Linked DNA regions of Homo sapiens: region 2 is linked to region 1. A link means that fine-mapping ties the variant in region 1 to the expression of a gene that starts in the linked region. Tissue or cell type: whole blood. Region 1 holds a variant in brackets; the other region holds the start of a gene. All regions are shown on one strand. Distances are between the middles of the regions.

Evidence for each region. PIP is the estimated chance that this variant, and not a neighbour inherited with it, causes the effect.
Region 2: PCBP4 starts here. The variant in region 1 is fine-mapped to the expression of PCBP4 in whole blood (TOPMed, PIP above 0.99).

Annotation. Positions count from the first base shown.
Region 1 is chr3:51,924,261-51,926,940 of GRCh38, forward strand. No RefSeq gene overlaps it. Among named protein-coding and RNA genes, the nearest start is that of RRP9, 16 kb to the right of the region's middle. The variant CAA/C (reference allele first, on the strand shown) is at 1,207.
Region 2 is chr3:51,965,827-51,968,506 of GRCh38, forward strand. It overlaps PCBP4 (poly(rC) binding protein 4), which reads right to left and starts at 1,628. Exons shown (of 14, transcript NM_001174100.2): 1 at 1,500-1,628. RefSeq lists enhancers at 1-470, 471-1,032, 2,159-2,680 and silencers at 1,318-1,587, 1,688-1,797, 1,808-2,087, 2,118-2,197.

The DNA.
Region 1 (2,680 bases):
ATTAGCTGAACGTGGTGGCAGGTGCCTGTAATCCCAGCTACTCGGGAGGCTGAGGCAGTGAATTGCTTGAATCCAGGAGGCCGAGGTTGCAGTGAGCCAAGATCATGCCACTGCACTCCAGCCTGGCAACAGAGCGAGACTGCGTCTCGAAAAAAAAAAAAAAAAAATTGGCAGGTAAAAGAATTGTTAATGGTGATAAACTAAATGTTCGCTCTTATGATTGGGAACAAGACAATGGGTCCACTCTCACCACTCCTGCTCAAGATTGTACTGGAAGTCTTAGTGCAACAAGGCATGAAAAAGAAATAAAAACCATACACATTCGAAAAGAAATAAAAGTGTCCATATTCACAGTGACTGTCTACATAGGAAATCTCAAAGACTCCACCAAAGGCCCCTAAAACTAAGTGAGCTTAGCAAGATTAAAATAAGGATTTATTTTCATGCTCAAAGAAAAAAAATATGTAAGGTTAACATACAAAATTTAATCATAGGTCCATATACTTCCATGAATTGTTGGAAACCAAAATTATAAAAACAATATCATTTACAATAGCTCCAAAAATATAATGCTTGGATTTATCTAATCTAATAAAACACATATCTAATAAAACATGAGCAGAATACATATTCTGAAATATACAAAATGCTGATGACCAAAATAAAAAGACACAAATAGAAAGATATATCATGTCTATTGATTGGGAGACTCAATATAGCTAAATACTCCCCAAATTGGTCCATAAATTAAACGTCATTTGAATCAAAATCCCAGCAGAATTTTAGAAGAGACAAGCTGATTCTAAAATTTATGTAGAAAAGCAAAGGAACTAGAATAGCACAATTTTGAAGATTAAAAAAAGTTGAAAGACTCACATAACTCAATTTTAAGACTTACTATAAAGCTATAGTAATCAAAACATTATGGCATTAGTGAAGATTAGAAGCACAGATAAATCGATCACAATAGAATGTCCGGAAATAGATCTCCACAAATATGACTAATTGCTTTTTTTTCCCACAAAGATGCAAAGGCAATTTAATGGAGAAAGAGTAGTCTTTTTTTTTCAATGGTGTTGGGATAATTGGACATCTATCAGAAAATTTAAAAAGGAAGACTCTCAGCCTAAACTTCCTACCTTATAAAAAATTAACCCAAAATGGATTATAGCTGTAAATGTAAAATGTAAAACTTTAAGAAGAAAA[CAA/C]GAGAAAATTTTTCATAATATTGGGGTAAAGAAATACTTCTTAGATATAACACCAAAAGCATTATCCATGAAAGAAAAAATGAATTTGACTTCAAAATTTAAAACTTTTGCTCAGTGTAGGTCAGGCGCAGTGGCTCACGCCTGTAATCCCAGCACTTTGGGAGGCTGAGGCGGGCGGATGAGGTCGGGAGTTCGAGACCAGCCTGACCAACAGGGAGAAACCCCATCTCTACTAAAAATACAAAATTAACTGGGCATGGTGGTGCATGCCTGTAACCCCAGCTACTCCAGAGGCTGAGGCAGGAGAATTGCTTGAACCTGGGAGGCGGAGGTTGTGGTGAGCCAAGATCACGCCATTGAGCTCCAGCCTGGGCAACAAGAGTGAAGCTCTGTTTCAAAAAAAAAAAAAAAAAATTTTGTTCAGTGAAAAAGACTGTTAACAGAATGGAAAAGCAAGCCACAGAATTGGAGAAAATATATGCAAATCACATTCTAGAAGGGACTTATTTATTGAGAATTCTCAAAATTAAATAATAAGTAAACAAACCCAATTAAAAATGGACAAAGGACTTGAACAAACACAGCATCAAAAAGGATGTAATGATAGCAAGTGAATGTATTAAAAGATGTTCAATATAATTAGCCATTAGGAAAATGCAAATTAAAACCACAATGAGATATCACTATGCCCCTGTTAGAAATGCTAAAATTAAAAATCCTGGCAACACCAAGAGTTGGCAAGAATGACGAGGAACTGGAACACTCATACACTGCTGGTTGGAATGAGAAAAATACAACCATGCTGGAAAATGGTTTGGCAGTTTCTTATAAGGTAAACATATACTTACCAAATCGTCCAGCAATCCCACTCCTGGGTATCTGCCCAAGTGAAATTAAACCTTACGCTCACATAAAAACATGTACACAAAGGTTCACAGCAGTTTTAATTGTAATAGCCAAAAACTGGAAACAACCCAATGTGCTTCAAAGGGTAAATGGATACACCAACTGCTGTAATTCCAGCAGTGAAAAGGAACAAGCTGTTGATACACACAACCACTTGTACAAACTCAGAGACATTAGGTTGAGTAATAGAAGCCAGTCTCAAAATGTTATATGCTGTATAATTCCATTTATTTGACATTCTTTTTTTTTTTTTTTTTGAGATGGAGTCTCACTCTGTCACCCAGGCTGGAGTGCAGTGGGGCGATCTCTGCTCACTGCAAGCTCCACCTCCCGGGTTCACGCCATTCTCCTGCCTCAGCCTCCCGAGTAGCTGGGACTACAGGCGCCCGCCACCACACCCAACTATTTTTTTTGTATTTTTAGTAGAGATGGGGTTTCCCCTCGTTAGCCAGGATGGTCTTGATCTCCTGACCTCCTGATCCGCCCACCTTGGCCTCCCAAAGTGCTGGGATTACAGGCGTGAGCCACCGTGCCCGGCTATTTGACATTCTTAAAAGACAAACAAC
Region 2 (2,680 bases), 42 kb after region 1:
GCTGCTGGGGTGGGGGATTTGGGCTGTGCTTTAGGTTTTCAGAGGGTGGGAGCAGAGTGGGTCTCCTCATGGAAGAGGGGGACTGGAAGAAGGGCTGGGGGGTGGGGTACGTTTCACAGAGTCGAGTTGGGCTCAGCCTGTCACAGCTGGAAAGGTCTTACCAATCACAAGAGGGGCTCGCGGCCCAGAGAGGAAGGGAAATGTTTGTAAGGCTACATGGGAGACAACTGGCAGAGCTGGAGAACCCAGGGGTCTACCTGTGCAGCTCAGAGCTCTTTCCTCAAGATGTCAGCGCCACTGGGCAATGGTGATGGAGGCTGGAGGGGCAGCAGTGATGGGAGTAGGGAGGGTGGACAGCCTGTCTGGGGACACAGGGTGGGGCAAGCCAGCCTCCTCGTGGCCTGGGCCTGCCAGGGTGTGTGGGCTGCCTGCTCCCAGCCCCCCACCCTGAGCATGCAAGAAGAACAATCCCCTTGTGTTTGGGCAGCCTGAGCCTGCATGCTGATGAAGGCTAGGGGGTGGGGGCTGGGATGGGGGTGCCCTGGAGGTTGAGGGGGCTCCAGGACCTGGGAAGACCAGGGGATTTTTTCAGATGGGGAAAGAATAGGGTCCCAGGTACTGGTCCTGAGGCAATGAGGGTGACCCAGGGAACAGGGAGGGCAGGAGCTCAGCTCCTAGGGAGTTCATGGATTGTAAGAGCCTTTGTGGCGGAAGGCAAGCCCCTGGGGACACATGTCCTGCTGGTTCAGCACGAACATGAGCATCCTGGGCTTGGTGGGGAGAAAGGAATGCAACTGGCCCTGGGTGCATCATCACCTTGGAGACCACTCCCCTGGGTGCTGGGGCCGGGTGGGGCACTGGGTGCCACAGGTCTCAAGATGGCGGGCCAGGGATAGGGGAGAGAGGAGGCGGGCACCTCCCTCTCCTGGCCAGGCAGGCATGAGGGCCAGGCTGAAGTGAGTAGCAGAGCCTCCCACCCCCACCCCCCAGGACCCCAGCCAAGAAGCTAGGTCAGAGCTGAAGGGCTGAAGAGCTATGGGGCAAGAGGGACCACTCTGAGCCCCCAGCTGTCATCTCCATACACCCCTGGCCTGGAGGTCTGTATCTGGCTCCCCCAACGACTGCGGAGGATGGGAAGGAGTGTGTGCCCAGCCAGGAGCTACAGGGGAGTGGCAAGTGAGGGCAGAGATGGAGCAGAACCAGAACCCAGGGCAGGAGTCAGAGAGAGGAGCAGGCGCAAAGGACAGAAACAGCGAGTGGGATGGGGGCCTCAAATCTGGGATCTAAGGTCCAGGAAGCCCCTCCCTGGTGCCAAGGGCGCCTCTGGCAGACCAGCGCCTCCCACCTGTGCAGGCCTCAGCGGTGTGGGACAGAGAACGTGTTCCTCGCAGTCTCACAAACCTGCGACCCCAACCGAGGGATCTGGGCGCGGGCTCCCTGCCCCCGGGCGAACCCCCAAACTTCGCGGCCCGCCGTGCCCCGCCCGGCCCGCGCCCTACCTCGCTGGGGCTGTCCTGCGGCGGCGGCGGCGGCGGCACGGCGGCTGGGCCGCTCAGTCCCACATTGTCCCCGGGAGAGGCGGCCGCTCACAACTGCGAGTGACATCAGCTGCGAACAATGAGGGGTTTGACAGGCGCGGAGCCCGGCCGGCCCGGAGCCCGGCTCCGCGCCCCCCCCCCACCCCCCGGCCCGCCCGGCCCGGCCCCTCCCCGCCCCCTCCCCGGATCCGATTACAGAGCGGCGGGCCCGCCCCAGCCGCCCCAGTGCCGCAGCCGCCCGCCCCGCCCCGCGCGCCGCGGTGCGCCCCGAGCGGCGGCCGCTTCCTGGAGGGCTCGGGCGACCCTTCCCCTGCCACTCCCAGAGCCCCACGGGTTGGGGGTAGGGGCGTCCGGCCTGAAGCCCGGTCCCCAGCCACGGCCTTCCCCGCACCGCCCGCGCTGCGCCCGGCTCCAAGCCCCTCCGCTCCCGCCAGGCCAGTCCTTCCGGCCCGGGCCGCCCGCCCGGCGCCTCTGCCGAGCCCCCTGCACCCCCATCCCCGCCTTGGCCCCGCCAGCCCCGGCTCCGCCTCGCTCCCGGCCCGCGTCCCTCCGAGCTCCGGCTGGGACCCTGCGCCCCGCCTAGCTCCCGGCTCTGCTCGCTGCGCGCCATCCTCCGCTCGGGCTTGCGCCCACCAAGACCCGCTCTCCTCGGCCACCCACAGCTGCATGGCCCGGCCCTCGTCCGCGCAGGACAGGCTGGAGGAGGGGCCTGAGAGCCGTGTGGCCCTGTGCACCCGATCCTGTGATAACCCCAAATCTACCCCCGGAATTCCTTTTGGGGATAGGGTCGCAAGGAACGGGCTCCGTTGAGTCTTTTACTGGGGAAGGGATACTAGTGGGGGTGATGAACTGTTCTCAAGTCCGCTGGGCACCCCCCGCCCTCGGGGAAGCAACTATTCCTTCCCCCCCACTCCTCCATAATCGGCTCAGCCTGGTCCCACTGACCTCCACCTCCCCCCACAGCTGAGTCTCTTGGCACCTGGGTATGTGTGGGTGGGGAGGGGAATCCAATCTCCCTTCCTCTCCATCTGGCCTGGTGGACAAAGGGCAGGGGGACCATCTGGTCCCGCCGGGGTGGGGGAGGGGCCCACAGTGTTGGTCCCAGGGGTGGGGGAGGGGCGGCGCTCTTTAGAAGCAGGAGC